2 separate regions of the Homo sapiens genome follow, and region 1 is linked to region 2. The links come from fine-mapping of genetic effects on gene expression. A gene starts in region 2. The other region holds a variant in brackets. All regions are shown on one strand. Distances are between the middles of the regions. Region 1 holds the start of LOC124903485 (a long non-coding RNA gene). Region 2 holds the start of SLC12A1 (solute carrier family 12 member 1).

Evidence for each region.
Region 1: its variant is fine-mapped to the expression of SLC12A1 in prefrontal cortex (BrainSeq, PIP 0.95).

The regions. Positions count from the first base shown.
Region 1 is chr15:48,107,589-48,111,991 of GRCh38, forward strand. It overlaps LOC124903485 (a long non-coding RNA gene), which reads right to left and starts at 2,534. Exons shown (of 2, transcript XR_007064619.1): 1 at 2,353-2,534. The variant A/G (reference allele first, on the strand shown) is at 2,583.
Region 2 is chr15:48,203,993-48,208,395 of GRCh38, forward strand. SLC12A1 (solute carrier family 12 member 1) reads left to right here and starts at 2,310. Exons shown (of 27, transcript NM_000338.3): 1 at 2,310-2,338; 2 at 3,542-4,147. The coding sequence starts at 3,728.

The sequences.
Region 1 (4,403 bases), 96 kb before region 2:
GTTAGGGGATGTTTCATATTTCATCTTAACCCCTAACTGCTCCCTCCTTTAAAGCCGCCCACCTTCTACTCTGGAAATACCACATTCCTCTGGTTTTCCTACTACCTCAGTGACCCTGTTTCTGAAATTCATTTGCCAGCTTCTCCTTGCCTGCCTGGCTGCACCTCTGATCTCTAGACCCCTATATTCAACTGCCCACTTGACACACAGGTGTTGGAAGGACAGCGGGCTGTAGGGTGGCAAGAGAGATGACAAGGGACAAGTCAGGAGGCTATTGCAGAACTCTGGGCAACAGATGATGGTGGTGATGGATATGGAGAGGAGTGAGTTAACTCAAGAGAAGTTTAGGAAGCAGAGTTATCAGAACTCAGTGATTGATGGATGCTGTGAGGGAAGGGAGAAGTAGGAGTCACAGATGACAACCTGGGCGGCATCATTCACTGAGATTGGAAATGGGGAAGAAAGATGGGCCACATATAATACATCCTTTAGAAATGTTCCAGAAACCTGGTTTCTCCCAGCTGAGCTTTTAAGAGGTTTTATTCCCCTGCAAACAAAACAAAACAAAAAAACTGATATGTAGATACTGTCCATCAAGATCCACACACTCTGACCATCCTTGTCTTCCAACGTTACATGGACCATGTTTATTTGCTCAGCACTCTGTCTCCAGTGCTAGCACTGCATCTGGTATACAGCAGGTGCTCTATGAATAGTTACTCAGTAACTGAAAACCTAGTTAGCAAACCCTTATGAACAGTTAGGGACTACAGAAGAATGGGTGCTTCTTAACTTCTCTGTGCCTCTCCTTCCTCATATATAAGATGAGAATATTAGTGACAAATTTCTCCTAAAGTTATTGTGGGAATTAAATATCATAATAAATGTAAATGCTTAGAGCAGTGCATGCTCAAAAGAGCTATTTTGATTAATAATATACATAATTAATAATAATATATTTTAGGAAACTTCTACTCTGCCATGTAGAAGGGCCAAATGACTTTCATGATTTTTTTTTTTTAACAGAAAACTGTGGATCTTCAGGAGAGTAAGACCTGGACTTTGCTGAAACTTCTGAGCTCTGCTTCAGTCTCCTAGGCGCAAAGACCTGGTCTCTATGAAGCTCAGTGTCTGTGAGACGCTACCATCATGGCAGCCCCCGTTCATGTTTCTCTTGCTGACCTATCCTCTGCAGGGGAAGCCAAGTCTGCTAACGGGGTGGTGCCGTGCGGACACTCAATGTTGCAGTTAAACCACATCCCTTAAGAAGGAAACCTAAGGTGGCTGCTCATTTGAGGTTCTCCAGTGGCCACACCAATGATATGAGTGTGAGTCCACATGCAGGACGATTTAATGGCTGTGCAGTCATGCTCAAAAGGTAAGCACAGAAGGCGGAGAAGGACAGCCTGCCCTTGAAATGAAACCTCTTGTTCCCTTTGTATCCAGGAGGAAAATCTCATTAGAAAGATCCTCCAGAGCCACAAAAATAAGCACATGCGTCAAAAGGAGGGCAGAAAGCCCAGGACACGAGGCGGGGGGGCGCTGAGATAAAAAGATTATAGCTAGAAAACAGCCAATCCCACCATCATAGCTGCTGCCTCATCCCTTCCACACTTTCCAGACCCCCAAACTTGGCGGAATAACAGGGTCTGCTGTGGGAGACTAAGAGGCGGCCAGCCCAGGGCTCAGTGCACTGCCGCAGTGCTCTGCCATCAGTAGCAACCAGCATTTGCCTGGTGCTCTGGGGTTTACAAAACTCTTTCATATAGATATAAAGGAGATAATGTTTTCAAAATGCCTTCCAACTTTTTTTTTTTTCATTTCCTTTTGCCTTATGGCTACCCACGCATTGAATCAATGGCATTCATTGCTTCAAGTAAAGGCCAAACACAGCCTAGAACAAAGGAGTCATTCCCCAACTTCAAGTGTCAAATGCAATTTTTTTCCTTCTATCCACAGAGGGCAACAGTTTTAAAAGCCAAGATTTGTTGAAGGAAAAAAGAAAGCATTTTCTAAAATCTAAAACTCACTGTTTACATATCAAGAGTAAAGTTTGGAAGTCTGAGCATAGAACTCTACCAGGCTACCGAGCAGGCTGAGTCTATCAGGGAGATGAAGTCACTGAAGGTAGAGTTCTTCAGAGGCTGTCACTGAGATGAAGTTGGGAGTACAAGATATTTATTGGGCTCAGGAACTGTGAGAGGGAGCAGGATCGGGAAGTGGGAGAAGTCAAACTTCAAAGTTAAGTCCAACAAAGCCTCAGCTAAACCAGAGGGCAGCTCCGAAATGAATATTAGCCACTAGAGCTGTGTGTCGGGCTGAAATGGCTGGGCTTTTATGTCCCTGCCTTACCTGGACATGGGCTGCCCTGTGAACCTCTTGCCCTCAGGTGAGGTGGCTCCCTGCTGCTGAGGAGTGCATGAAGGGGCTGTGAGCTGGCACTCATAGCAGCTGGGGTGACATTCCTTCCTCAAGGGGGATCTGGGAGGCCCACGTCCATGTAGACCACAGTGATCTAATAGTTTCAGAAAGAACTGGAAAACGAGAGAGAGAAAGGCAAAAGGTGAGATTTGTGTGTCCTC[A/G]TGTTCTAGAAAAAAAGTAATATAGTTCTAATTCCTTGGACATATCTAAAACAGCAGCCCAGCAGGCCAAAACGCAAGGACCCTTTTCACAAAGACTTCTGCAGGTCATGCACTCAGCAGACAGACTTACTAGGAATGGCCATAGTTCCAGTCCCAGGAACAGTCTTGGACTGCATGGGCATGATGTACTAAGCTACTCAGATTACAATGGTCAGTCTTTATGGTCAATTCTGCTCCTTGTTCTCTAGCCCCACACCAGCCTCCTCTGCAACAACAACTGCAACAACAACAGAGATATGACAGCCTCCCTCTCTCATTGCTAAGGAAGGACTTCAAAGCACACTGAGTAATTTGCATTTCTTATCCCAGGACAGAGAGAATTATAATAAAGCATTCGTTGGCTTTTTCTCTTCAGGACCAGAGTCTTGTATGTTCAGTTCTTTGGCTTTTGAGTTCCAAACCTGTAGGAGAACTTCTAAGCCCAGCAAATTTTGAAGCATCCCTGATGAATTCCTTCATCCCGATTATTTATAATAAAGGAGGCATTAATCTCCCCACACAGGGATGGCAGCCTTCACATAGAAGACTAAGGAAAAATGATGGTGCTAACTCAGACCCTGAGGGGTTTATTATATTAAAGTGAAGGAAATAAATCTCCACACTCTATTGTGTTTGAGTCAGGGCCCCTCCACTTCTTGTTCTCACTGGCCACCCCCTCAGAACCCCCTAATGAAACAGAGCTAGAGGAGAAAATGGCAAAGCCAAGCAAGAGGCCTTTTTCCAGATCACTCCTTAAACCACCACATACTGAAACACTCAGGAAAGGCTTTTATTCAAACTCTGAGAACAAAGGCAGAGTAAGGCTAGCACAAATGAAGTAAGAGCAACAAGTATCAAAGAGCAGAGGCTAAATATCCAATTCCATTCTGTGTAAATACAGCTAATGAAAATGTCTTATCTGTTAATTTTTTCCCCAGCTGATGGCCTGCCCAATGCATTCAGTTTCATTGAGAGTTAAGGACTCTGCCAAGTTCTACTAACATAAAATGTGCTCTCATACAGTAGTACAGAGGGAAAAGGGGTTGATATTTTTGTTTTTTTATCACACAGCCTAAAAAGCATATGGTATTATCCACAATGACTGTTTCAGAAAGAATGGGGAGGAAGATTTTAACCCAGATTTGGCAAGCTCTAAAATTATTTCCACTCTAAAATATTGTTTATTTTAAATAATATTTGATCTGCAAAACTTGACTACTGCCAAAATAATTTAAACTCCCCCTTAGTATTTAGAGGACTAGAAGATGCCTTCCAGTGAAGGAAATAAAAAGTATAACTTTGAGAAGACAGTGAAGACCTCCTAGGAATTGAAAATGTTTTAGACAATTTTCACAGCATTGGAGCCATACAGCAGTAAAATTAGACCAATCTGAATTGGGTCGAAAATTAGGAATGTTCACTCATGCTCTAAACCAGTGCTGAACCCTGGTTTTAGTGCCTAACTTGAGTCTGGGAAAGGACAAGGGTCTGGGGAAGTTGGCAGGTGCCTTGTGAATATGTGAACCATTGAGTGAAATGCCATTCAACACTCAGTCATGGCTGTGGCTCCAGTTAGAAACTCATGTGATGGTTAGAGACAAAAAAAAAAAAAAATGACACTCAGTAGATAAGATGAAAGCTCCTAGTCGAGCTGATGCCCATACTGACCTCCTGTTCCAGGATCCTGAGGGAAAGCTGCCCATGCAACAGCAGCAACTGAGGTAATGAAGGCTCCACATAACAATGCATTTACATTCAAAATCCACTCTGCTCCACATTGTT
Region 2 (4,403 bases):
CCCAAAAGCCTTGTCAGAGAGGACAGAGGAAAGATAGAGGAGCATACCTCAAGATAGCTTGCTCCTGTTACCTTTCCCGCTTGTCTGAAAGGCCTAAATCGGATTCACCTTTCAAGGTTGGCTTTATGGATGGTGTTATTTCATCCATATCCCCCAAAACTGTCTCCCATTTGTTCCAGGATGCCTGAATCCCCTTAAAAGAGAACAAAGACTTTCATTTCACAGTGAGAGATAAAAGGCTTAGAATGAAAATGTCTGGTTGATATAAGACCAAGACTAAAACAAATTCATACCACTCTGAAGTCAGGCAGTCAGTCAGCAAGAAAAAGGAAATTGACTGGTATCAGAGGTATTCACAGTCATTGGTAGAGGAAAAAGGTTGTAGAGTAAATAAGTGGCTCCAAAAAGGGTTGGAGGATGCCAGCTTATGGCTCCTGTCCTGGTCTGGTGAATAGAACTTATTTTGGGTGCCAGCCCCATCCTAGCTGTTCTTTGTCTTGATCTAAACAACCAGCCCCACCCAGCTGAATTTGAAATCGGACACTCCTATGCCAAAACACTTTCTATATGAGGAATCAGAACCCTTTGTTGAACAGATAAATGCCTTGTACTGGTGACCTTTAAGAGTGGAATGAGTTATAGGTATATACTTGTAATTCTGTCTCTATTTCTGATATAGCCTCACGACATTAGCCTGACTGATTAGCATGACATTTACTTAACGAAGAGGATCTAAAGGGTTTTACTTAGGTGTCTCTAGACACTTCTATAATCCTGTATCAGTTCACTAACTTACCTTTACACTTATTTTTTATAGACAAAATATCTATCCCAATCTCTAATGATTCACCTCACAATCTTGTATGTGCTAAGTAAAAATCCCCAGCTAATTGTAAATAGCGCTAAAATAGTGAAAGCAAGCACTAGGTACAAATTGTTGCTGTTCTAAACCCCATACACAAACTAACTCATTTATTCCTCAAAATAACTCTACAACAAGGTAGGTACAATTATAATCCACAACTGCATTTGCAGATGAGAAAATTAAGGCACAGAAAGATTGAGTAACTTGACTGAGTTCACACAGACAGCAAGTGGCAGGGCCACGACATAAGTTGGGCCTTCTGACTTGAGTCTTGCTCCTAGCCACTATATTACACCACAACCGAGCTACTCAGACAACTGGAAATCACTTAAATCGTTTCTTATAAGAAACAAAGAGGACTCATTCAATCATCCTGATTGATAATCAGTGACAGACTTGAGGGAGGAATTGTTTGCAGTGTTAATAATCACCTACTTGCAGATCTGAAAAAGAAAAACCTTTTCCTCAACAAAACTCAAAAACTGAGTTGGACAAAAAAATGTTTTTCTAGTTGGAGACAGAAAGGTCATTTAGTAGTGCCACTGAGATGCTTACCCACAGTTTGGTTCCTGCTTAAAACAGTTTTCCCTGCTGGGCGCGGTGGCTCACACCTGTAATCTTGACACTTTGGGAGGCTGTGCCGGGCAGATTACCTGAGGTCTGGAGTTCAAGATCAGCCTGGTCAACCTGGTGAAACCCCATCTCTACTAAAATTACAAAAAAATTTAGCCAGGCGTGGTGGTGGGCGCCTGTAATCCCAGCTACTCAGGTGGCCGAGGCAGGAGAATCACTTGAACCTGGGAGACAGAAGTTGCAGTGAGCTGAGATTGCACCAGTGCACTGCAACCTGGGCAACAGAGCGAGACTCCATCTCAAAAAAAAAAAATTTTCCCATATTTCCCAAAATAGAAATATTTTCAATAAATCATTGATTCCACTCTTAATCTGCTTACTTCCCATGCAAAAGAGTCAAGGTAATGTCTACTACAAGCAAGATAAAATCATTTCAGACACTACTTTCTAGTTACAGAGTATAGAAATTGTCTCTGGAGAACTATATTTTGATACACATGCTAAACAATAGGAGGTCACTAGGACTCATCTGTAAGACGGTGGAACTCAATTTATCTATTCCCAAATGACTAATGGCAATGCTCATATTTTTTGGACAATTGCTGTTAAGGGATCCAATTCTCCTTATGAATTAAAGAAACTCTATGTTACTTCCTGTCTAAAAGGATTAATGGTTTACTACTAGTTACCAGTTGATGTGGTACTTAAGTTTCCTCAGGGCTAATGACCTGGTGGGGCTTACAGTACTATTCCAGGCCAATCATTGCACAGTCATCTCTTTCAAGAAAGTTTCTAACCAATAAGCAGAAGCCTAACTTTCTGGCTGAAAGCTAAGTGTCCCATATATTCCTGGGTGACGCTGAAGCAGGTTACATTTCCTCAGAAGAAGGCTCCTTGGTGGTAAGTTGAACATTTCTGGGCAGGGTAAAAATCATACTTAATATTATGTCATAAAGTAGATTCTGAGGAGTAGGTGAGGGTGTCAAGGACTATGAAGAGAAGTGTTTTGTAAAAACTAAAACGATAATAGCTTCATTTATAATTTCCCCAGGAAAGGTTACTTGAGAAATGAAGTTGAGGGTTTTTTTAATTCAAATACACAGCTTTAATAACTGCATGAGAGAGACAAGTTTTTATTTATATTTATCTCATTTTTCTAGAACTTCCCTTGAAAAGCCAAATTTTAAGGTATCAATAAGGAAATATAATTCTAAAGCAAGTGTTTTAAGACAGGCCAGTACTATGAAATTGCGAAAATTATTGTGAAGTCTATTCACCTCACAGTCAAATATAAACCTCTCAATTATTGAAGACATTTCATTAAAATGAGTCAGTAGAGCATGATTATTTTACCTAAACATAGCAGAGGACTTTTTTAAGGTATATGACTTATTTCTTATAGATATATGACTTATTTCTATATTCATATTTTTTTAAGGTTTCATGTTAGTATTTGCAAAACAAACAAATGTATGAGCAAATGAAACATTTGGATCTTGTAAAAGATCTAAGAATTCACAGAGACATCATCTTGATGGGATGTATTTTTTAAATGCATATTCTAAAACATAATTTTTTACTTGTTGCATAGGTAACAAAATTTGGAATTTATAAGTTGAACATGTACAGATTTTTATAAACTAGCAAGAATATATTTTTTAGAAGTTTTGTTTTTCATTTTATATGTTGTATAGTATATATTCCTAACAATCAAAATACTTTGCAGTTTCAGCATTTAGTACTGTCAGTGAACTGTGTCTTAGGCTGAGAATATTCTCATCAGCTCTTACTGTATTCAATAAGTAAAGTTACATCTTTTCTAAAGTCACAGTGAACTCCAGTGCACTGAATTCAAGCAAATACTACAAACACAGGTAACATTTTAATGACTGCATTGGAAGTTCTGTTTGCTGGAACAGTTTTCCAGTTATTTATTATCAGATTTAATTACTCACATGACTAAGGTTCCTGGACAGATAAATTTTAGTGAAATGAGTTTAAAATTGTATGTCTTGTAAAATAAAACTGTTCCCTTATATCCCACCCTTACCTAAATATATTTGTATTACTTGGAACAAGTTTAATTTTCTTTTTCAATGACAGCTTTGAAGAACATCCTGAAGATTATATCGGAGACAATATATCAAGAATCTATTTATTGAATCATCTAGAACAAAAGCCAGGAGCTCCCTAATGGAAGCACATTAGTGTTTATTTTGATGAAGAAATATATAGATTTTTTAAAACAACCACAAAGTAGATAGCTCAGTAAAAAATCAATTTTGGAAGATGTCACTGAACAACTCTTCCAATGTATTTCTGGATTCAGTGCCCAGTAATACCAATCGCTTTCAAGTTAGTGTCATAAATGAGAACCATGAGAGCAGTGCAGCTGCAGATGACAATACTGACCCACCACATTATGAAGAAACCTCTTTTGGGGATGAAGCTCAGAAAAGACTCAGAATCAGCTTTAGGCCTGGGAATCAGGAGTGCTATGACAATTTCCTCCAAAGTGGAGAAACTGCTAAAACAGATGCCAGTTTTCACGCTTATGATTCTCACACAAACACATACTATCTACAAACTTTTGGCCACAACACCATGGATGCCGTTCCCAAGATAGAGTACTATCGTAACACCGGCAGCATCAGTGGGCCCAAGGTCAACCGACCCAGCCTGCTTGAGATTCACGAGCAACTCGCAAAGGTAAGCTTGAAGGACACAAGCAAGTCTCCTCCCTTATTCATAACTTCAGATAATTTCCTTCTCTTTCATTACACTATGAATGAATGTGAAACAGTCAAATGGAGAGGTCTATTCCAAACACTATCCATCTTACTTACAAAACTGTCCCTAGTTCCCAGAAAAGTGTTTCACAGATGCTTTTTCTTTGGATTTTTTTTTTTCTTGAGACAAAGTCTTGCTCTGTCACCCAGCCTGAAGTGTGGTGGACACTGCAGCT